2 separate regions of the Homo sapiens genome follow, and region 1 is linked to region 2. The links come from fine-mapping of genetic effects on gene expression. A gene starts in region 2. The other region holds a variant in brackets. All regions are shown on one strand. Distances are from middle to middle.

What was found. PIP is the estimated chance that this variant, and not a neighbour inherited with it, causes the effect.
Region 1: its variant is fine-mapped to the expression of DIPK1B in whole blood (TOPMed, PIP above 0.99).

What each region holds. Positions count from the first base shown.
Region 1 is chr9:136,735,070-136,743,243 of GRCh38, forward strand. LCN10 (lipocalin 10) reads right to left here and starts at 7,871. Exons shown (of 6, transcript NM_001001712.3): 1 at 7,718-7,871; 2 at 6,812-6,951; 3 at 6,183-6,292; 4 at 5,767-5,874; 5 at 4,881-4,979; 6 at 3,101-4,484. The coding sequence starts at 7,834. The coding sequence ends at 4,456. RefSeq lists an enhancer at 192-691 and a silencer at 7,276-7,375. The variant C/T (reference allele first, on the strand shown) is at 5,163.
Region 2 is chr9:136,705,525-136,721,383 of GRCh38, forward strand. DIPK1B (divergent protein kinase domain 1B) reads left to right here and starts at 7,048. Exons shown (of 5, transcript NM_152421.4): 1 at 7,048-7,204; 2 at 12,053-12,187. The coding sequence starts at 7,142. LOC124900276 (cuticle collagen 2-like) reads right to left here. Exons shown (of 5, transcript XM_047424334.1): 5 at 11,758-15,859. The coding sequence starts at 14,751. The coding sequence ends at 13,816. RefSeq lists enhancers at 7,711-8,635, 8,776-8,905, 13,916-13,965.

The DNA of each region.
Region 1 (8,174 bases), 26 kb after region 2:
CAGCCCCAATTGGTGACTCTGGGTCTTTAAACACCTTCCATGGGGCCACACAGGTGCCCAGCCCCATGCCAGAACCTTTGGGAATTGCAGACTCTGACCAAAACTGTGGGGCTCTCGCAAGAGCCTCAGGCCACTCCCTGCTGCCTTTCGTCCCCAACCTGGACCTCAGAGGCCCAGTGAAGTGACCATTGTAACTCCAGGACAGAACTGCACAGGGCCCTCGGGAGGTGGGGGGTGTCCAGGAGCACTGGCCAGCCCCATCGGCCCGGCCGCAGCTGTCTCTGCTGCCAGCCAGCAAGGATGTCCACAGGCTGTGGGCTCACCGGGGGTTCATCTGTAGCAGACACACCTATGGGCTCCCCCAGATTTTTTTTTTGGTTTTTTTGAGACAGAGTCTCTCTCTGTCACCCAGGCTGGAGTGCAGTGGCACGATCTCTGCTCACTATAGCCTCCACCTCCTGGGTTCAAGCGATTCTCCTGCCTCAGCGTCCCAAGTAGCTGAGATTACAGGCATGCACCACCACGCCCGGCTAACTTTTGTATTTTTAGTAGAGAGGAGGTTTCACCATGTTGGCCAGGCTGGTCTCAAACTCCTGACCTCAGGTGATACACCTACCTGTGCCTCCCTTCCAAAGTGCTGGGATTACAGGCGTGAGCCACTGTGCCCGGCCTCCCCTGGATTCTTGTTCTCATCTTCCTCCAGAGAGAACCCTGGCCATGCCACTGCCTCTGAAATGGGGGTCAGGGAAATGGTGTTGTCTGGGAAGCAGCTGAGGCTATGGTGTCTCTGAGGCTCACTCCAGGGCCACAGAGTGGGCCTAACCCACAGGGCTGTGTGTGATGAAAGGGCATCATAGACCGCACGGGCCCTGTGGAGGGTGGAGGGTGGTACCCACAGAACCGTCAGCAATTCTGACCCACCAGGTGGCACGCTGCGGAGGGAGGTGCACTGGCACGGGTGGTGTGTACGCGTCTAACCCCTCCTGCTGCCCCTCCCTCCCTGCCCGTGGGACCCCAAGTGCTCCCCTCTCCCCATTCTCCCAGCTCCTTCCCTTCTTCCTTCTTCTCCTCCCCACTGACAGGATTGAGTTGTGGAAATGGCTGCTTCCCTGGGCCCAGGGAAGGGGGGCGCAGAGCCCGAGCCCCCGGGACAGAGCCAGGCCCAGGGAAGGGGGGCGCAGAGCCCGAGCCCCCGGGACAGAGCCATTGCCCTCACCCTGGTGAATGGGTGGTTCAGAGGCCCACACTCGGGGTTCTCAAGGCCGGACAGCAGTTTGGGGCTCCTGCTCAGCTCGTGTCCTGCCTCTGCAGCCAGCCTGCGTGAGGGAGCAGAGACATCGAAGGGGGGCCGGGGAGCCTGGGCCCACCTCTCCATGACTGTGCCTTGGCCTGGGATTCTGGAAGAAGTAGTCACGTCTCTGCCACTCTTTAATGTTTTTTGAGACAGGGTCTCCTCTCTCACCCAGGCTGGAGTGCAGTGGTGCAATCGGCTCACAGCAGCCTTGACCCCCTGGGCTCCAGCCATCCTCCCACCTCAGCCTCCTGAGGAGCGGTCACCACGAGTGCGTGCACCACACCTGCTACATCTAAATCCTGGAGTTTCTTTCTTTCTTTCTTTCTTTTTTTTTTTTTTTGAGACAGAGCCTTGCTCTGTTACCCAGGCTGGAGTGCAGTGGCATGATTTCAGCTCACTGCAACCTCGACCTCCCAGGTTCAAGTGATTCTCCTGCCTCAGCCTCCCGAGTAGCTGGGATTACAGGTACCTGCCACTATGCCTGGCTAATTTTTGTATTTTAAGTAGAGACGGGGTTTCACCATGTTGGCCAGGCTGGTCTCAAACTTGTGACCTCGTGATCCGCCCGCCTGGGCCTCCCAAAGTGCTGGGATTACAGGCGTGAGCCACCACACCCAGCCTGTATTTTTTTTTTTTTTTTGAGCTAGAGTCTTGCTCTGTCGCCCAGTGGAGTGCAGTGGAGCGATCTCGGTTCACTGCAGCCTCTGCTGCCTGGGTTCAAGCGATTCTCCTGCCTTAGCCTCCCGAGTAGCTGGGATTACAGGCACCCGCCACCGCACCTGGCTGATTTTTGTTTTTTTTAGTAGAGACAGGGTTTCAGCATCTTGGCCAGGCTGGTCTTGAAATCCTGACCTCGTGATACACCCATCTCGGCCTCCCAAAGTGCTGGGATTACAGGTGTGAGCCACCATGCCCGGCTGTATTTTTTTTTTTTTTTTTTTGAGATGGAATTTCACTCTCGTTGCCCAGGCTGGAGTGCAATGGCATGATCTCGGCTCACCACAACCTCCGCCTCCCGGGTTCAAGCTACTCTCCTGCCTCAGCCTCCCGAGTAGCTGGGATTATAGGCATGTGCCACCACGCATGGCTAACTTTGTATTTTTAGTAGAGACAGTTTTTCTCTATGTTGGTCAGGCTGGTCTCGAACCCCTGAACTCAAGTGATTCACCTGGTTCAGCCCCCCAAAGTGCTGGGATTACAGGCGCCCAGCCTTTTATATATATGTCATAATATATACTATATATATATAATATTATATTATATTATATTATATATTATATATATATCTCATATATATATATATAATTTTTTTTGAGACAGAGTCTCGCTCTGTCACCAGGCTGGAGTGCAATGGTGTGATCTCAGCTCACTGCAACCTCCGCCTCCTGGGTTCAAGCAATTCTTCTGCCTCAGCCTCCTGAATAGTTGGGATTACAGGCGTGTACCACCACGTTTGGCTAATTTTTTGTATTTTTTAACAGAGACGGGGTTTCACCATATTGGCCAGGATGGTCTCGATTGCTTGACCTCATGATCCGCCCGTTTCAGCCTCCCAAAGTGCTGGGATTACAGGTGTGAGCCACCATGCCTGGCATATATATATGTTTTTTGAGACAGTCTCACTCTGTTGCCCGGGCTGGAGTGCAGTGGCACGATCCTGACTCACTCAACCTCCCAGGCTCAAGCAATCCTCCCACCTTAGCCTCCTGAGTAGCTAGGACTACAGGCGCCCACCACCACGCTCAGCTAATTTTTGTATTTTTTGTAGAGATGAAGTCTCAACATGTTGCCCGGGCTCCAAACTACTTTTTTGCACACAGGAGAGCTTTATTTCTCATAAGAGATTGCAGCCAGCAGGGCAGCCCTTCTGACAGGCTAGGAAGCGTAGCCTCAGGCCAGAAGCCTGGAACAGACACTTGGAGGGGAGGGACAGAGGGGACAGGAATTTACGCTGAAGGAGATGGCCAAATAGAGATGTTCAATAAGCTTCAGGAGGAGTCATGAATATTCATGAAAGGAGAAGCGTGTACTGGTCCAGCTGAGCAAATTCTCCATGGACTGCCCAGAACCAATCTCTGATCTCTTCTCGGGCCAGAAGGAGGGGCTGACCCCTTACCCCGTCATGGCTGAGGACTCGGGTTCAGGGTTTCTTTGGGATCCCCTTGGCCAGAAGAAGGTCCATTCATTCAGTTGGGGGGTTCATCTCAGACAACCTCCCGTCATCACCCCTTGAGTGAGACCTAAGCCTTCACCGCAGCCTTCGAGGTGCCGTGGTCTGGTGGGCCCCCTCCTGCTCCTCTGTGGCTCTCCCCGCCGCCATTCTGATACTGGCGTCCCCAATCTCCTTGAGAAACCATTTTCTCTACTCTGATGTCTTTTCAGAAGTCACATCCTGTTCTGGGGATGCACCCCTGCTCCTCCAGCCCCACCCAAACTGACTTAACACCCACCACCCTTCCCAGGTCAGCCCAAATGCCACTTCCCCCAGGAAGCTCTCCCTGATGCTGCCCTGGATGGAATGAGTCAGACCTGCTGTTGTGGGGCCCTGGCCGCGCCTAGATACACTTCTAGGGTCTATACTCGAGTATCCAGGTGATCTAGGGTCTATACTCGAGTATCCAGGTGACCACACTGCTGAAGTTGGCTTCTCCTGATCAGGCATCAACTCTGGGACTGCGTTTGCCGATTCTGTTCCCTAACGCAGCCGCAGGGGCCAGCACGCTGCCTGGCACGTCATGGGGGCTCCTCCATGTTGGGTGGATATGCGAACGGCTTCCTGAGAAAGTGCAGGATGTAAAGGAACGCGGAGGGTGGCGGCGGCGTGGAGGGCAGAGGCAAGGCACACGGCGAGGACTGCGTTGGGCCGGCCTGTGGTCTGTTTCACAGCAGACAGGGAATAGCAGCAGCCTGCAGTGTGCTCCAGAAGACAGTGGGGAAGGGGCCTGGCTGACATCTCGCCACCCGGTCAGCCTGTATCCTCCTTCCCCCATCTTTCTGTGATCATAAAGGATCCCTTGAGCCACTTGATTTTCACACTGTCAATGACCTAGAGTCACCAAACACCTCTCAACAAGCCGTGGTCTCCACTTGACATCTGGAACAACGCTCCTCGGGTCTGGGAGGACCACGCGTCGAAAGGGAAGAGCAGAGGACGCTGGCTCTCATGGCAGGATGGTGTGTGTACGGGACGCTGTGGGAGAGGAAAACAGCCACATGTGGGCTGGCTGCTTGGAGGAGACACATGAGCCGTGAACACGTCTCCCCCGGCCGCTCCCTGGTTCCATGCGTGCTCGTCTTGGGCACCACGAGAACACAGCCATGCAGCCCCCGATCCTGCAGCCACAGCCACGGCATCGCCTGGTCGGATGCAGCATCTGCTCCGGACGCCTCTCGCTGTCGGTGCCAGGCCTGCCAGGCCAAGCCCCGATTCTCAGGGGCGGCAGGAGGTGGGAGGCACGTTTGGGCGGATCTTTCAAATGGCACCTTTCAAATGGATCCTTTCATCTCTCCTTCCCCCAATGAATCAGCTCCCCAATGGGACGGGCAGGTAGGGCCAGGAGGGCAAAGGGCTGAGGGCACAGCTTACCGTCTTTCGGGAGGATGACGGCGGCCTTGGAGAGCCCCAGAATGTCACAAGCGTCCATGAATTCCTTCAGACTCTGGAAGCTCGAAACATTCTGCCTATCTGAGGTTGAGATCAGGATCACATCAGAGACTCCAGCTCTGGCCATTTTAGGGTCTGCACCCTGACCCCCATCCCTACCCCAGGAGCTGCTGAAATGTCCTCAGAGCTTAGGCGTGAAGCAGGGGTTGGCCAGGGGAGGACAGCGGCCGCTGGGCCCCTCCCCACTTACGAGGCAGCCAGGCT[C/T]GGGAAGCCAGGGTCACCACGCTGTCACCTGGGGAACCCTCTCTGCCTGCAGAGTCCCCTCCAGCCAGCCCCTCAGCTGTGCCCCAGCTTGCTGCACCCTGAGCGTGCCCTGCCTCGACTGAGACCCCAGGACCCCACCTCCCCTCTACCCGTTCCAACCGGGAGGGCCACTCCTTTCCGTGTACCCCAAGTGGTTGGTGTCTAGAATTGGGTTTGTGGCCCTTAACCCACACTGGGTCACTTCCACACCCCTCCATCCCGGGCAGACCCTTACCTGGGACCCCTCCCACGCCTCCTCATCCCCACTGTGTCCCTCACCCAGAACGTTGCACCTGCACCCGCCACCATCCTGGTGGCCTCCGCTCCCCCTGGATGGCCCACCTTTCTCTGCAGCCTCTTCCTGACGTCCCCTATCCTTGCTTCAGCGACCTCCAGGACCTGACTGCTGTGGTCTCGGCTTCCATTGCCCCTGCCCTGACCACCGCCCCAACCCCCACTCTCCCTGCCCGCCTCACCTCCTGCCCGGCCCCCTGTGCCCAGCGCCCCTCTATGCCTCCCTCTGCACCCCCTCCACCATCCTCTGCCATCCGCTGTGCCTGCTCACGGAAGAGCAGCAGGTTCTTGTAGTTTTGGGTTGCACGCCCCAGGCGGAGGTAGACCAAGCCGTAGCTGTAGTCAGTGGACAGCACGTGGAAGGCCTTCACCCCTTTCACTGAAAGAGATGCCCAGAGATGCCCGCTGGTTCCCGGATGGCGTGGCTGTGCCCGCCCACAGCCCTGACCCCTGGTGCCCGAGGCCTCAGAGCCCCCACCCAGGTGCAGGTGTCCAGAGGGACTGAGTGCCCTCCCGGGGCCTCCCCTCCCGGGCCAGGCCGCCCAGCACATGACGTGTGGGCTCTGGGAACACAGCCAGCCTGACGCCTGCCTGCCACGTGCTCTCGGGGACAAGGGGCCTGCTCAAGGCACAGGGGGGTCAGAGGCATATCACGCAGCTCCTCCAGGGCCCAGAGCCCAAGCACACCTCCCTCCTGTCCTTCCCTCGGGCCCGCCGCGTATGCACAGGCGTTCCCAAACACCGGCTTCTTCCCGTCTTTCCTCAGGATCACCTCCTGGGACTGGCACCCCTTCAACCTGGGGCCAAGGCGGGGGCTCAGGCTGCAGACCAGGGAACCCCTCCTCCCGCCTGCCAGCCACCGAGCCCCACCCACACGTCTCGGTCCCGCCCCTGCTCCCGTGGGACCCGGGAAGGTTGGGGCCCCAGGTCCCCAGTTTTTTGCTTCACTATCCAACTCGTGTCAATCTGAGGCTCTGTGGTTTGAGGATTTTCCAATTCGGACTGGGGCCTGTCCCACGGCACGAGAGAAACTCCCAACACCCACCCGTGTGGGGCCCAGGAGCTGCAAGCGGCTTCCTCCCAACACCTACCCATGTGGGGTCCCAAGGTCTGCAGGCAGCTTCCTCCCAACACCCACCCATGTGGGGTCCCAGGGGCTGCAGGTGGCTTCCTCTGAGTTTAGGGGGAGGAAGTGGGGGGACGGTTCTTGTGGAACTTCCAGACAGACAGGCTCCTCCCAGACTCCTTTCCAGCCCCGAGGCAGCTCCCTCCTCCTGGAAGGGGAGACCCTTGCCTGGGGGGCGCTGCCCACTCACCGTCTGAAGGCGAGGAGCACGCGGAGCTGGCCCACTTTGTTCACCTTTACCACGGACGCCCCCAGCTTCCTCTTGTCCCTGGCCGGCAAGAATCCCTGGGCATCAGTGGCAGTGGCCAGAATGTACCAGAACCCTGAAAACTGCGCAGCGGATGTGTGGGCGGGGACAGGAGCTGCCACCGGGGGCTGTCCCCACCCCCGAGGTTCCCAGCTAGAGAACCCAGGAGACAAATGACCCTTCTGTGAGCCGGAGTCCCAGCTCCGCCCAGGTGCCGCCTCGGTCCCGGCCACTCAAGCCCTGGCCACTGGAGCAGGGCTGCAGAGAAGCAGGTGCCCGGCTGGTCAGGGACCCCAGGCAGCAAAGGGCTGGGCTGTGGGCGCCAGCAGGTGGGAGGCCCCCTACCTCAGAGGCCCCGGCTCCTTCCCACATGGCCTCCTGGGGGCTGGGTACTGCTCGGCCACTTCCCTTCCTGCCGGCCCCCGGCCCCCAACTCTGCCTGCTGCCAACCCTAGCGCCCTGGGCACCGCCGTGCCAATGAGTGCTGCTCCCACGGCTCACTCAGCAGGTGCCCGGGCCCTCCCGCTACAGAATATGCCCCGCTTGCTCCACACCCACTCTGCACTCTGGGCGTCTCCCGACCTCCTCGGCCACAGCTCTCTGGGCCCCTCCACCCTGGCCCTCCCTGACCCCCCTGGGCCCCCGAACCCCCTCGAGGCTCCCTGCCTTTGCCCTGCAACTTGCGGGGCCCCTGTGCTGGAGGCTGCAGTGGGAGAGGCCAGGTGGGCAGCGCCCGTGCCTGGAACTGCTGGTAGCCCTGCTCCTGGGCGGCTGCCGGGAGACTGTGCAGGAGCCTGCTCCAGCTCCAGAGCCGGCGCCCGGCTCAGGGACCAGTGGCACATGGCTCACCTTGTTCCAGTTGAGGGCGTGGGACTCCCTGGGGTACCACTCCTGCACCTGGGACCCTGCAGCCAGCACTAGCACCAGCACCAGCACCAGCGCCAGCACCAGCAGCCCCTGCCTCATCTTCACCCTCCTCCCTCAGCCGCCAAGGCCAGTGTTTAAACCTCTCTGGAGCCGCCAGCCTGTGTCGGGAGAGGAGGGAGGGGAGGGAGCGGAGGGAGGCAACAGGTGTGGCCTTGGGCTCTGCTACCCTCTCCCCGCCCAGGGACCACCCCCAGACACTCCAGGGAAGCCGGCACTGCCCCACCTGGTGGTCACTGCTGGCCTGGGCTGCCCTGGCAGACAGAGGCCCCTCTGAGGCCCCAGGACCCTCCTGCCCTCAGTGCCCGGCCTGGGGTCACTGTGTGTGCCCCTGAGACTCATTAAGCCCTGGCCCTCATCCTAGACCTCCCAGGTGACAGGC
Region 2 (15,859 bases):
GAATCCTCAAATAAGATTGCCACTGGGACACCAAGCTCGAGTTGGCCAAATGGTGCAAACTCCACAGATCCAGCTGAAAACAACATGGCAATGGCTACTAAGCCATGGGGCTCCCAAAACTGAAGTAGATGGGTCAGCTGTGAGAAGCTCACTGCCTGGTACGGAGCATTGGATGGATTGAAAATCATGGAACAGTCCCTGGCTGAGTCATGAGCCGTTGCCACGCTGCCTGAAAATAAACGCAGAACCTTGTTCATGGACTTCCTCCTTCCACCTCTCACCCCCCTCCACTTACGTTAGGAAGAAAGATGATTAGAGGTTCCCAGGCCGTGGGCACCATCCAAGTGTGCTGGAGAACTTGGAGGAGAAGAAGAACTCAAACTTTATGGCTCTGTCGGATATGAGTAGCCCACATCACTCTCCTGTTTGGACCAGTGGAAGGAAAAGTTCTCTGGATTCCGCTCACCGGATTTGTGCACGGTTTGAAATGGGGAGTGAAGGCTGATGTGATCTTGTGGGTGTGGCATTTTGGGCCAATTCGATGCCCTGTTTTTGATGCTTCTATGTGTGTGTTGCCGCGTAGGAGCTGTGTTTCATCCCCATACTTCCATCCTGTACGTGCCAGAGGGGACTCTCCCTATTGGCAAGCACTGAATGCAGAGAAGGGCCAGTGGGATGTGTGAATCTCTCTGCAACCCGCTTTCAGGGCGGGTACAGAATCCCAGAAGCGGTACAGAATCCCAGAGGGAAAAAGGCGCATCAGAGGTTTGATTGAGGGATTAAGGGCAGTAGGGGGACTAAGAGATGAAATATGGGGCTGGGCGTGGTGGCTCACGCCTGTAATCCCAGCACTTTGAGAGACTGAGGCCGGTAGATCACTTGACACCAGGAGTTAGAGACCAGCCTGGTCAACATGGTGAAACCCCGTCTCTACTAAAAATACAAAAAAATTAGCCAGGTGTGGTGGCGGGCACCTATAGTCCCAGCTATTCGGGAGGCTGAGGCATAAGAATCCCTTGAACCCATCACTTGAACCCGGGAGGTGGAGGTTGCAGTGAGCCGAGATCGTGCCACTGCACTCCAGCCTGGACAACAGGGTGAGAGTCTGCCTCAAAAAAATAAAGGCTGGTCGTGGTGGCTCAAGCTTCTAATCCCAGCACTTTGGGAAGCCGAGGCGGGTGAATCATCTGAGGTCAGGAGTTCAAGACCAGCCTGGCCAACATGGAGAAACCCAGTCTCTACTAAAACTACAAAAATTAGCTGGGCATAGTGGCGGGCCCCTATAGTTCCAGCTACTCGCGAGGCTGAGGCAGGAGAATCATGTGAACCCAGGAGGCAGAGGCTGCAGTGAGCCGAGATCACGCCACTGCACTCCAGCCTGGGTGACAATCACTGGGTGACACTCCGTGTCAAAAAAAAAAAAAAGAGATGAAATATGGCAACACAACATCCCTGAGTGGCCAGTGGAGCAGGTAAGAGCTGCTGGTGGCTGACAGTGGATTACCACCAACAGAAGTCAGCCATTGCTCCCAGAGCCCTAGCTGTCCTACACACTGTGACCATACCGAGCCCATCACGTGGGCTCCGGGTACTTGGTACACTGTCTTGGATCCTGCCAATGCCTTTTTGCCACACCACTGGCAGGGGAGGAGCAAGACCAGCTTGCATTCACATGGCCAGGTCTCCAATACACTTAGGTGTGTTCCCCGTACACGCCCCGCCACTGGCCACCTGTGGGCAGGTTAGGACTTCTGATGTCCACAGGTGCCATGATACAGATGATGTCCTGCAGGTTGGCAGCTCAGAAGCCTTGGGTCTCTAGAACTAGACAACTAGACGGGGGTACTCTCATACCTCCCTGTCCACAGAGGCAGGCAAAACATCAACAGCGTCCAGTGGCTGCCTCACCAGGTGGAGTTTCTTGGGATGAGGTAGGTGGAGGTGGGTCCACAGCACTCACTGCCTCAGCCAGTCAAGGAAAACCTGTTGTCTCTTTGCTCCCTCATCTCACCCAAAAGGACAACCCAGCACTTGATTGGACTGTGTGGGTGTTGGAGACAGGATGTGCTTCATTTGGGCATTCGACTTGGCTTCTTAAATTAGTGAATCCAGGTCGGGCGAGGTGGCTCACGCCGGTAATCCCAGAACTTTGGGAGGCCGAGGGGGGTGGACCACCTGAGGTCAGGAATTTGAGACCAGCCTGGCCAACATAGCAAAACCCTGTCTCTACTAAAAATATAAAAATTAGCCAGACGTGGTGGTGTGTGCCCGTAATCCCAGCTACTCGGGAGGCCGAGGCAGGAGAATCGCTTGCACCTGGGAGGTGGAGGTTGCAGTGAGCCGAGATCACACCACTACATTCCAGCCTGGGCAACAGAGTAAGACTTGGTATCAAAAAAATAATAATATAAATAAAATAAATTAGTGAACCCACAAATCAGCCTGCTTACGTCAGGGCCTGAACCAACAGGCTATTCCAGCTGCCGCCCCGTGAGCCACAGGCCACTCTCTCTCCCGCTGGGGCCTCACAGCCCTGTGATCCCTTTGAACGACAAGTCCCTGTGGCTGACGATCCCGTTATCTGGAAACTCCAGAGAAAGAAAACAGCCTCTGCCCAGATGTGCCCCTTGGGGTGGTGGATTCACTGACTCTCTGACACGACTACTAGGTTCACCCCTTGTTTTCAAAAAGCAAAATTAGCTTACAACGAGCTCTTGTCCCAGTGAACCACCTGACCACGGAGGCCTTGTGACTGGAGCCTGACAGTCCCATTCGGAGGGTTTTCAACTCAGACACAACCACCACAAGGAAGGAGGGCCCTAGAGCTTCTCTTTGCAAACAGAAGACTCTGTATTCAACAGCAGCGGGCGGGTCCCCGGTGATATGTCAGCTTCTCATCGGAAGTGGCAGCTCTCCCTTTGGGGGAAACTTGACGCGCCGCACTCCACCGTCTGAGGGAAAGCTCGTGGCTCTCCAGGGCCCTCGATCCACCAGGGCCCCCTAAACGGCTGCTCACCTGGTGTGCTCACCGGCTTGCTGTCAATAAATACGTGGGTAAATCTCTGTTCGAGGCTCTCAGCTCTGAAGGCTGTGAGACCCGATTTCCTATTTCACACCTCTATATTTCTCTGTGTGTGTCTTTAATTCCTCTAACGCCGCTCGGATAGGGTCTCCCTGACTGAGCTGGTCTCAGCACGTCTCTACTAAAAATACAAAAAAAGGCCAGGCGTGGTGGCTCACGCCTGTAATCCCAGCACTTTGGGAGGCCGAAGCGGGCGGATCACGAGGTCAGGAGATCGAGACCATCCTGGCTAACACAGTGAAACTCCGTCTCTACTAAAAATACAAAAAATTAGCTGGGCGCCGTGGCAGGCGCCTGTAGTCCCAGCTACTCGGGAGGCTGAGGCAGGAGAAAGGCGTGAACCCAGGAGGCGGAGCTTGCAGTGAGCTGAGATTGCCCCACTGCACTCCAACCTGGGCAACGGAGCGAGACTCTATCTCAAAAAAAAGGTCTGGGTGTGAGTAGGGGATGCCTGGGGAAGAGACGCAGTTATAGCAGTTGGAATGGGACATGCCAGTTTTGCAGCAGGGCAGGGAGAGCAATGGGCCCCCTGCTTGGGGAGGAAACTCCCAGGCCTCAGGACGAATGGGAAGGAAAGACAGGGCAGGAAGGTCCTCCACTTTCAGAATTGTCCCCGGAGCCTGCCCCGAAGGTGTGTGTGATCCTGTGTCTCTGCGTCTGTGTCTGTGCAGTGGACCTTTCGTTTACCTGTCGTTTGCCCTGGCCAGGGTTTGAGCTCAGGGCCTCAGGCCACGAAAGGCCCTAGAAACAGCAAGGCACGGCCCAGTTCCCGCCCCCACACCTGAGATACCAGTCAGCACCTCCCGGGTCCTCTGCCCCATTCATGTTCCAGGCAGGTGGATGTCACCCATTGGTGGCGTAGAAACAAGGGCCCCAAAACGAGAACTAGACCCATTCAAACTGAACTGGAACCCGGCCAGTGCCCATTCCATGAACACTTGATGGGCTAGTGGCCACGGACAGTGTGCAGGTTCTGGGCCAGGCCTGCAGATGCAAAGGAGAACGTGGTCACTGGTCCCTGCCTGGAGGGAGCACCGCGTCCCGCGGGCCCTGCTGGGAAATGCCTTTTTGGAAGATCTCGGGGACAGGGTCACCCAGGGCCGGCTATGCGCTCACCAGGCACTCCTCCCAGGGCGGGCCATCTCCCTCCTGGCAGCCTGGGAGTGGCACTGAGGCTGCGCTCATCCTTCTCATGGCCCACACCTTCCCCAGATCCTGACCCACGGATCACGCTCTCCTGCGCCCCTCCCCCAGGAAGCCCTCCTCGGGAGACCCTCCAGAACTTTCTTGGCCGCGGTCTTGGCCTGGCTCACATTGACGGAAGGTGTGGGCTCCTGCACCCTCCAGCTGAGCTCCCTGCAGGCCGGACCGACCACCACTGCCCTGCACCCACTCCCCCTGGCCCTGGGACAGCCCTCCTGCAGGAGGAGGACAGGCCATGCAGGGAAGCACATGCTCTCCCAGCTGTAAACATGGCAAGGCCTCCCTCCAGGCCGGGAGAAGCCTACGTGTTGGCCTCTTGGTGCTTGTGCTCTGTGTCCCACCCTCTCGTACTGCTCTTCCCTTTCTTGGGCTCCGGGACCCTCGCTGGCAGAGAGACAGTGCTTGGATCGAGGGAGAGAGGAAAGGTCACTTGGGGACATGGCAGTCCCTCTTCCCAGCCTGGGCTACGGCTACCTTGGGGGTCACTGAGACTGGGAGGGTCTGCCTGCTACTTTCTCCCACTGGCCCCTCTCCCCTTCCTCACGTTGCCTCCAGCCCTGTCCATCCAGGTCGCTGGCCTAGGCCACTGCCACACCCCCAGGCCCACCCCTCCTTTCTATACCTGGCATAGAACCCTGACCCCATTGCCCCCTGGCCTTGTCCCTCTCTGTTTAACTCCCTGCCATGCAATTCTGTGGGGAGGGGCTCATCCTTTCAACAGATGATGCCAGAAGGATTGGATGTCCATGTGCAAAAAATGCTAACAAAACCCCCAAGCCCCAAACTGAAAACCCTCTGATCCACACCCTGCACAATACACAAAAGTTAACTGGAATTGGGTCATTGACTTAAATATGAAGCCGAATACTATACAACTTCTAGAAGAAAGCACAGAAAACCTTTGTGACCTTCGGTTAGGCAAAAATTTCTTAGAGATGACACACTCAGAGCACGATCCGGGCTGGTGGCAGTGGCTCACTCACGCCCAGAATCCCAGAGCTTTGGGAAGCCAAGGTGGGAGGATCGCTTGAGCCCAAAAGTTCAAGACCAGCCTGGGCAACATGGCAAAACCCCATCTCTACAAAACATTAAAAAATTAGCCTGGTGTGGCCAGGCACGGTGGCTCATGCCTGTAATGCCAGCACTTTGGGAGGCCAAGCCAGGCGGATCATGAGGTCAGGAGTGATCCTGGCCAACATAGTGAAACCCCGTCTCTACTAAAAATACAAAAATTAGCCGGGCATGGTGGCTTGCACCTATAGTTCCAGCTACTTGGGAGGCTGAGGCAGGAGAATCTCTTGAACCTGGGTGGCGGAGGTTGCAGTGAGCTGAGATCGCGCCACTGAACTCCAGCCTGGGCTACAAGAGTGAAACTCCGTCAAAAAAAAAAAAAAAAAAAAGGAAAAGAAAAGAAAGAAACTGTTAAGAGAATGAAAAGAAAGCCACAGACTGGGAGAAAAATCTTTGCAAATCACATGTGTAATAATGGGCAGATATCCAGAAGATATAAAGAAGTCTCGGACCAGGCATGGTGACTCACGCCTGTAATCCCAGCACTTTAGGAGGCTGAGGCAGGTGGATCACTTGAGGCCAGGAGTTTGAGACCACTCCGGCCTGGGCAACATAGCAAGACTCCCTCTCAAAAAAAAAAAAAAAAAAAAGTCTTGGCTGGGCACCAGGTGACTCATGCCTGTAATCCCAGCACTTTGGGAGGCCAAGGCAGGATGATCCCTTGAGCCCAGGAGTTCGAGACCAGCCTGGGCAAAACACTGAGACCCAGTCTCATTCTAGATATTAAAAATTAAAACCAAAATGTAAATAAGTCTCAAAACTTAATAATAAAGAAACAACGTGATTTTTATTAATGGTCAAAAACTTGAATAGACTTTGGAGAAGATACACAGGTGGTAACTGAACACGCAGAAAGTGTGTTAAACACGCGAACCACAGCCCCAGCGAGACGCCACCACCAGGGAAATGGCTAAAATGTAAAAACCTGCCGATAGCAAGAGCCGCCCGGGATGCGGAGCAGCTGGAAGCGCCGGCGGCCGCGGGGAGGGAGCGAGTCTTGGCAGCTGCTGGCTGCGCCCCACATCCCTCACCGTCCAACTCAGCCCCCCCAGGTGTTTACCGAAGTGCAATGAAAGCTTCTGTTCACACGGAACCTGCCTATGGAGGCGGCAACGGCTCATCCCCGAGCACCCCACGCGGAGGCGAAGGAAGTGTCCTCCCGGCGAGTGGCCAAGGCGCGGGGTCTCAGCCAGGAGGGAAGGGTCGGACCCCGGGGCGGGCTGCAGGCTCGGCCAGCCCAGGGCTCCGCGCGTCTGACCCCATCCTGAGGACCCAGGGGAAGGACCAGCCCTGGCTCTGCGGCCTCGAACCGGGGGCGCGCGTGGGGAGCCCTGAACCCCGCAGCCTGCGTAGCGCACGGGGCCTCTCTCCAGCGTGGGAAGAGCCCCCGAGACGCCCAGGAGCCCGACAGGCGCGCCCCCGGCCCCGGCTCCGCCTCCCGGCCCATCCCGCGCGCCCCCAGCCCCTCCCGCAGCACCGTTGCATGAGGGGCGGGGTCTGCGGGTGGGCGGGGCCTCGGTGCCCGCCCCCTCCTCAGCCGAGCCGGGGGTCGAAGGCGGGCCGCGCGCCAAGCCCCGCCCCCGCGCGCCTCCGCCGCGACCCTCCCCCGCGCGCCCCCGCCGCGCCGCCGTCGGCCGACAGAAAGGCGCGCGCCCTCGCCTTTAACGCGGGCCCGGGGGCGCGCGGCCCGCATGGCGAGGGAGCGGCGGCCGCTGCGGGCCGGGCCGGGCCGGGGCTGAGGCCGAGCGAGCCGCGGGGCCCGCGCAGCCCCGGCCGGAGCCCACCATGCGGCGGCTGCGGCGCCTGGCGCACCTGGTGCTCTTCTGCCCCTTCTCCAAGCGCCTGCAGGTAAGCGCGGTGCGCGCCCGCCGCCCCCGGCCGCCTCTGCCTGGGGAGGCCGAGCTCCAGCCCCGGAGTGGGCCGAGTACGGAGCGGGGCCCCGGGTTCGGACACGAAGGGTTCATGAGCCCGGGGTGGGCAGCGGGGAGGGGGCGAGTGGCTCCGGAAGGACGGGACGCTGGGGGAGGGGCGGTGGCGGCGACAGGAGGGTCCGGGCGCGGGGATGCTGCGGCCTGGAGGCCCTCGCCCCGACCTGCAGGCGGTCCCTGCCCCCCAGGCCCAGAAACCACACCGAAGTCCTTTCTTCTTTTCTCCACTTAAAAAATGAGGTGTGTTATTCTGCGGTAGAAAACTTGGGACGCACAGAAACGCCCTGGCAAGGACATGACCTCCCCGCCCCCTGCCCCTTCATCCCATCAGCCAGCCGTAGCGCGGGGACCCTGCCCTGACCCCGGGATGACCTTGAACCACCGTCCCCTCCAGGGGCCTGGCCGGGTCCGCAGGGGAGGCCCGGGCCGCCTTGGGTTCCAGCTGCCAGGAGCCCTTTCACCTTCTGCTTTGGGGAGATGCAGGCCAGGCCCATCAGGCTCCAATCATCCGGGGCCCGGCCTCGGATGGGATGCCCTCCCAGACCCTCCAGGACCCCAGCCATCTGCCGGAGGCGCCAGTCCTGGTCAGATTTGCCTGTATCTCCCCGGCCCCCGCAGGGTGGTCCTGGGTCAGCAGGAGGAACCCTGCCTGCGTCCTGCCTGAGCTCAGGGCCTGGCTGGCCTCAGCTCCCCTTCTGGGAAGAGCGTATGGAACCTGGCAACCCACAGATTGCAGCGAGACCCTCTGTGCCCACTTGGGGCTTCAGGTTGTGGTGGTCCCGGCTCAGCCTTGGGGCAGGGTGAGAGCTAAGGGGTCTGAGGACCACCCCAGTCGCTGGGAGGTGGGGTGCACAGTGGTCCCCTCCCCCGAGGAAAGGCCTCGACCAGCAGCTGCAGAAGAGATGCTGATGCTTGGAGCTCCGCCCAGGAATGGCAGCAGAGGGGTGTTGGCTGCTCCCAGGGTGGCTGGCTCGGGGCCAGAGCCCTGGTGGGAGCCCAGCCTGCCCCTCTAGTGGCGAGGGCCTCAGTTTCCTGGCCTTGTGAACTGCTTTTCTGGGTTAGTGCTGTGGGGCTCCTGGCCCACGGTCTGAGCCTGCTGGGCTGAGGACCACTGTGCTGTTCCCATCCCCTGGGTGACCTTCCCTATCCTCCAAGTGGCTACACCGGGAGCTGGTCCCCACCTGCCCCTGCAAAGCCCCAGCCCAGGTCCTGGATGGTGGGGCCACCTCCACACTCAAGCTTTGCCCGTCCATCTGTGCCAGGCCCGGGAGCCAGGGTGGGCCAGGGAGCACTGTGGGGGCCTTGCAGAGCAGCTGCTTGGGACCCCAGGATCCACAGCAGGGTCAGGGATGGCAGCTGGGGAAGATCAAGACCTAGGGGAGAGCTGGGCAAGGTGGCTCCTGCCTGTAATGCCAGGCCTTAATGGGAGGGTCACTTGAAGCTGGGAGTTCGAGGCTGCAGTGAGCTGTGACTGGACCACTGCACTCCAGCCTGGGCAACACAGCAAGACCCTGTCTCAAAAGAACAACAACAACGAAAGAGCTGGGGGATGAACCAGAGCTGGCCAGGCGGAAATAGGCCCTGGCCCAAGCCCAGTCGGGGCTCTGGGGAGCAGAACTGGGTAAGTCCCTAGCTTGGTGTCACTGTCCCCAGCTGGGGTCAGCCCTAGGCCCGAGGCCAGCTGCAGCCTCCCTCCTCCTGGCTGTCCTCCGAGGCCCCGCCCATGCTGGGCCTCCCTGCATGGCCCTGCCTTGGGCACGTTCACCCCAGACGGAGCCATCCGACCTTATCCTGCCAGAACAACACCCACCCCCCATTGTTTCTCTGCTTTCCTGTTTTTCATCTTGAGCAAGTCTGCCGGAAACAGATTCAGTGCCCAGGACAAGTGGTCTGAGGGGGCGGAGACCAACCTGGGCCTGGAGGGCTCCCCACACCGGAGCCACGCCCTCTGCTCCAGGACCCCCAGGACCCCACTGCTACTGGAGGTCTGGGCCCTTCCCCAGCTGCTGGGGGTCCTCCCTCTGTAGCCCTGCCTGGGGCGGCCATCCGTGAGTGGATGCCGGGGAAGCAGGAGACCAGGGCCCACCCATCCTGAAAGAACCAGAAAAAACGACCTCAGCTGCCTGGGCTGTGCCTTGTCCTCGTTGAGGAGCTGGTGGCCCCATTTTAGGGAGGAGTCCCCTGCTCACGGCCTAAGCCGGGCTGCAGCCCACGACCTCTGATGGGGGCTCTGGCTTGGGCAGGTGGGGGTGTGGCCAGGCGCTGCCGGGAGGAGGATGTGCCCAGGGCAGCCTCTCCCTGGCCGCAGGTGGACAGGAGGCCACAGGGAGTGCTTGGAGCCAGCAGTGGGGCCTCTCTGAGGGGAAGCTGGCCCCCAAGCCTGGGCCCTTCACCCTTCAGCTGCAGGTCAGGGATGTCTGAACCCCTGTGTAGGGCAAGTCCCCTCTGCTGGCCAGTGCCTGAGAGGCCTGAAATTTGCTAGGGGGCTGGGGAGAGGGAAGGTGGCATGCAGCTGTCCCTGGCTGTCACCCTTGGAAGCCCAGCTTGGAGGCCTGCACCCTAGAGCCGGTGCCTGAGCCTCCTCAGGCCGGTAGGGAAACCAAGGCAGAGGGACTGAGGATGGCAGAGTGACCTGGAGCCCTCCCTAAAAGCCGGCTCCCAGACATCTGGGTCAGAGCTTTAGGCAGGGGCCAGGGGCTGCCTGCTTACTTTTTTTTTTTTTTTGAGACGGAGCCTCACTCTGTCGCCCAGGCTGGAGTGCAATGGCGCCATCTCAGCTCACCACAACCTCTGCCTCCCGGGTTCAAGCGATTCTCCTGCCTCAGTCTCCCAAGTAGCTGGGATTACAGGCATGCGCCACCATGCCTGGCTAATTTTGTATTTTTAGTAGGGATGGCGTTCCTCCCTGTTGGTCAGGCTGGTCTCCAACTCCCGACCTCAGGTGATCTGCCTGCCTCGGCCTCCCAAAGTTCTGGGATTACAGGGGTGAGCCACCACGCCCGACCTTAATTTTTAACTGCGGTAAGATACACATGGCATAAAGTGTATCATCTTAACCCTGTTTAAGGGCACAGTTTAGTGGTCACCTCCCTCTGTCCGCAGAGCTCTCCGCCTTCCCAAACTGAAGCTCTGTCTGCATCAAACGCACACTCCCAGTCCCTTCCCAGCCCGCGGCTCCCTCTACTCTCCTTCCTGTCTCTATGGTTTTGGCGACTCTGGGGACCTCGTGTAAGTGGGTCCTGCAGGATTTGTGCTTTGGTGACGGGCTCGTTTCACTGAGCCTCTTGTCCTGGGGCTCCTCCCTTCTGGGTGGACATCAGATCTCCTTCCTTCTCAGGACACAGTCACTCCGCAGTGTGGATAGGATAGACGCAGCTGCTCTTCCATCCCCCGGCTGTGAACTTAAGGACTGCCCACCCCTGGGCTGTTGTGAACATCGGTGTCTGAGTCTGTGTCTTTTTTTTTTTTTTTTTTTTTTGAGACAGGGTCTCGCTTTCTCACCCAGGCTGGAGTGTAGCGTGGGGTCACAGCTCACTGCAGCTTCAACCTCCCGGGTTCAATCAATCCTCCAGCCTCAGCCTCCCAAGTAGCTGGGACTACAGGCGTGAGTCACCATGTCCAGCTAATTTTTGTATTTTTAGTAGAGATGGGGTTTTGCCATGTTGCCCAGGCTGGTCTCGAACTCCTGAGCTCAAGCAAGCCACCCACCTCAGCCTCCCAAAGAGCTGGGATCACAGGGTGAGCCACCGCACCCAGCTAATTTTTGTATTTTTGTAGAGGCGGGGTTTCCCTATGTTGCCCAGGATGGTCTCAAACTCCTGGGCTCAAGCAATCTGCCCGCCTCAGCCTCCCCGAGTGCTGGGTTTACAGGGTGAGCCACCATGCCCGGCCCGCCTGCGTCTCTTAAAGGCTTCCAGGATGTGGCTGCGTTGGGCTCCTAGGGCCCCGTTCTCCAAACCTGGTTCTCCTTGTGGGTCTGGTCCGGCCGGAACTTCCCACCAATCTGCATTACGGTGGACGGTGGGAAAAATAGGGGCAGTGTCTCTCGCGGTGGGCGCGCTCACCTGGCCTTGTGCGGAGGTGACGATGTTATGAAATGAGATCAGGATAGGAAGGGTTTGTAAAAATATCTTCATTCGGCCAGGCACAGTGGCTCACACCTGTAATCCCAGCACTTTGGGAGGCCAAGGCAGGTAGATCACCTGAGGTCCGGAGTTCAAGACCAGCCTAGTCAACATGGTGAAACCCCGTCTCTACTAAAAATACAAAAATTAGCTGGTCGTGGTGGTGCATGCCTGTAGTCCCAGTTACTCGGGAGGCTGACGCAGGAGAATCACTTGAACCCGGGAGGCAGAGGTTGCAGTGAGCCGAGATCGCGCCACTGCACTCCAGCCTGGGCTACAGAGTAAGACTCCCTCTCAAAAAAAAAAAAAAAATTTCATTCAGCAGAGGAAAGAATCGGCCACCCTGTAGTCCCCTGGTTTTGACATTTATTTGTACCTGCCCATAACACTGAAAAGTCTGGGCAGCGCCTGCCCCCACCTCCGGCCCCTGCAGCCCCTGGTATGTGACCCTGGAGAGGCAGAGCCAGGAGTGGGTGTCGCTGAGCTGGGGGTGATTCTAGAAGACGGGGGTGCCAGGGGGCCAAGGGGATGGCAGGGGAAGGCTGGGGTGGATCCGGAGGCCCTTCCTGTGGGAAGTGGGGTTGAGAGCACCCTGAGCCTGGGTGCCCCGAGGGCACCTCCTCACGCAGCCCCTTCCCCCACAGGGCCGGCTCCCAGGCCTCAGGGTCCGCTGCATCTTCCTGGCCTGGCTGGGCGTCTTTGCAGGCAGCTGGCTGGTGTACGTGCACTACTCGTCCTACTCGGAGCGCTGTCGCGGCCATGTCTGCCAGGTGGTCATTGTAAGTGTTGCTTGTGCGGGCTGGGGACTGGGCCGTGCCCCCTGCTGCCCAAGATGCTGGGGCACCAGGCCCTGGAGACACCTTCCTCCCCAGACCCAGGGCCCACGAGGCACGTGGGTTTCTAGGTGGAATCTGCAAAGCTGCCTCAGGCTGGGTGTGGAGGACAGGGGTCCAGGGGAGGACGGGGGAGACGTGCGGGGCTGCCTCAGGCTGGGTGTGGAGGATGGGGGTCCAGAGGAGGATGGGGGAGACGTGGGGGCTGGGGGCAGAAGGCAGGGCAGACTCCAGAAATCTTTGGGAGGGAGGATGTTTAGCAGGAAGCCTGGGGTGGGCAGCTGGCCTCACTGCTCCGGGATAGAGACCCCCGTGTGGTGTCCTCACTGGATGGGATAGAGACCCCCGTGTGCTGGCCTCACTGGTCCAGGATAGCGACCCCCGTGTGCTGGCCTCACTGGCCTGGGATAGAGACCACCGTGTGCTGGCCTCACTGGTCCAGGATAGAGACCACTGTGTGCTGGCCTCACTGGTCCGGGATAGAGACCCCCGTGTGCTGGCCTCACTGGTCCGGGATAGAGACCCCCGTGTGCTGGCCTTAGTGGCCTCGCTAGCCCCCCTGGGACCAGGGGTCCCCTGAGGCAGGTGGCAGGGCAAGGTCCTCCACAGCCTCCACCTCAGGGAGATAGGGCTAAGTCCCCTGGCGTATGTGAGCATGTGTGTGTCTGGGAGCAAACGTGTCCACATGAGTGCACACCAAGGTGACCCCCTGCCCCTCTCCACACCCTGTGACTAGCTCAGAGGGGAGGTCATCCCAGCTCTGTCTTCCTGGCAAACCCTAGACTCGCCCAGAACTGGGCAGGTCCCCCACTGAATTTTGACCCCAGGCTGCCCGATGACCAGGGTTCCGATGCCTCCACTCCCCTTGGGGTCAGGCCTGGGCATAGAAGGATCTGGCCTGTAGCAGCGGCCACTGTGGGTTGTCATAGGGTGATTGGGTGCAGGGAGACCCCAGGTTCGGTGTCTCCTCCGTCAGATGGGGAGAGCACCTCTCCTGGCAACTGGGTGGTGGATGAAGCTAGCCGGGTGGGCCTGGGCAGGCCTGTGTCCCACAGAGCCATGTCTGACGGGGGCCACATGTGGAAAGGCCCAGATGTGGCAGTGGAGGACTGGGGTGTGGGGTCCGGAGCTAGGAGAGCTTCTGTGCCCAGGACTTGTTTGGAGCCCATGCCAGCCCAGGGGAGGCCTCCGGGCCCCTGGACCAGGCCTTGCTCACCCTTGAAGTCCAGGGGGCCTCTGAGCCCAGCAGGGCCGGAGGGTGGCACATGGGGCTCGTCCTGGGGCCATGGGTGGGGAAGGCTGTGCCCCGATCAGATGCACCCCTGGAGCTCCTAGAAGGACCAAGGAGGTGGAGGGGCCGGACCTCCGGGCCGGGATGTTGTGGGTGGGGGCGGGTGGGGGTGAGCAGAGGATTCACGTGGCCAGGCAGGTTCTGAGCACCTACTGGGTGCCGGGCCGCAAAGCAGGAGGAGGTGCCCCCACAAACAAGAGGAAGCTGCAGCGTCGGTTTCCCAGGGTGCCCTGGCCCTTTGCCCAGTGGGGGTTTCCCTGGCTGCTCAGAGCCTTCCCAGAGGTCAGGCCAAGCCCAGCTCTCCCGAAGCCACCCCAGGGGCCATGGAGACGTCCCCTCCTTCCCAGAGGAGGTTCCCTGCCCGGCCTCGTGGGGGCATTGGACGCCTCAGAGAGGCGCAGAGGCTGGCCCAGCGCACACAACGAGGCAGCAGCAGTGCAGGGCCAGTCCCAGCTTCCACCAGGGCCCTCGCGAGGCCAAGAACTAGACCGTGAGTCCCCACTGAGCCCTGCTGCAGGCGGGGAACAGGCTGGGCGGTGAGGGGACCGATGTGCGGCAAGGGCCCTGAGGAGGCCAAGCACACGCCCGCCTCAGCCTCTGAGGAAGCCTCTCCACACTCTGCTAGGTGCTGGTAGGTGCCCAGGACCATGGAGGCAGCTCCATCTCCCCACCCCTGGGGGACCCTGGAGCCCCAGCCCCAGCCCCAGCCTGGCAGACAGCAGTGTGGCCCACAGGCTCCTTCCCCAGCACCACTGTGTGCCAGGAGCAGGGCAGCCTCCTGCGGTCCTGGGGCTCCGGGCACAGGGGCTGGTCTGGGGCTCCGGGCGCAGGGGCTGTGTGATCTGGGGCTCCGAGTGCAGGGGGCTGTGTGGTCTGGGGCTCCGGGTGCAGGGGGCTGTGTGGGCTGGGGCTCCGGGTGCAGGGGCTGGTCTGGGGCTCTGGGTTCAGGGGGCTGTGTGGTCTGGGGTTCCAGGCGCAGGGGCTGGTCTGGGGCTCCGGGTGCAGGGGGCTGGTCTGGGGTTCCGGGTGCAGGGGCTGTGTGGTCTGGGGCTCTGGGTGCAGGGAGCTGGCTGGTCTGGGGACGGGAGTGGACTCCGGTGGCAAAGGGCCTGCCTGCAAGGTGGAGGGTTGGACAAGTGTGCAGTTTTCCTTCATTTTCCTTTTCTGTCTTGACGAAGAGCCGGCGTTTTCTTGCTGCCGGGACAGACGCTGCCTTCATGACTCACGTGGCGGGGTCCTCGGCCTCCAGTTGGCCCATCTCACTTCTGTCCCCATCCTTGGTGTGTGGGGGGCGGGGACCCTCCCTCCTCCCCAACCCTGGAGGGCGGGGTGTTCCGCAGCTCCCTTCCCCAGCTCCCTCCAAGCCTGCTTGGCCAGGCTCCATGGCAACTGAGGCTGTACATCCAGGAATTCTCCCCCCCCCAGAGGGGCGGGCCAGCTCCATCCCTCCATCACCTCCCGTGGGGCGCTGGGATTGAGGGGCTGCCAGGCCCCTGGAGCTAGGGTGGGGGCTGAGGAGGGGCGGCAGCCAGCCCCAGGCCTGATGTAATTACTGCTAACAAAGTCTCCCTGGGGGTCTGGCTAAGGAGGGGGCCTGTGGGACAGGGAAGGACAGGCCCGGAGTCATTGTGGGGCCCCAGGGGTCCGTTTTCTCAGCCTTGACAAACAGCTCTGACAACGGAGCGCTTGAGCCTGGGCACTGGCCTCGGAGGGCTGGGAGAGGAGGTAGAGGCTGGGGCTCCGTTGCCGGCTCCACCCCAGGGGTACCCTTGAGACTGTCAGCTCTGGTGGTGAGCCCTGTCCTGGCTGCACTTGAGGCAAACAGTGAGGCCGCAGCCTGTCCTCCTGCCTCAGCCTGGGGAAGGCTGGGCCGGGCCAAAGAGGGAGGCCAAGTCCTTGGGACAGGAGGAGACCCACACCTGAGATTAGTGGAAACCCAGCCAGAAGCTGCCATGCAGGTGTGGCTCTGGGCATCAGGATCTGTCGTGAGAGCCCCCATGAGTGCCCAGTGCAGAATGGCTGGCAGCCCGCCCTGACGGGGAGCAGAGGGGCTGGACGCGGTGCCCTTCACGGGATGACACCCAGCTGTTTGCCCTGTGTCCAGGGGGTTGCTTCTCTGACAGAGGCCCTATGGCTCGTGTCTGACTCCTGTCCAGGTTCTGCCAGCCTGACCATCCATCGCTCTGGCACCAAGAGCCCACCCTTTTGTTCTTCCTGGCGTCCCAGGGAAAGCCCTGCCTGGGTGGGGCAGCTCCTGGCCCTTCAGATGGAAGACGCAGTCCAGTCAGCACCATCATAGGAAACAAGTTCAGAAATGTCTCACTTAC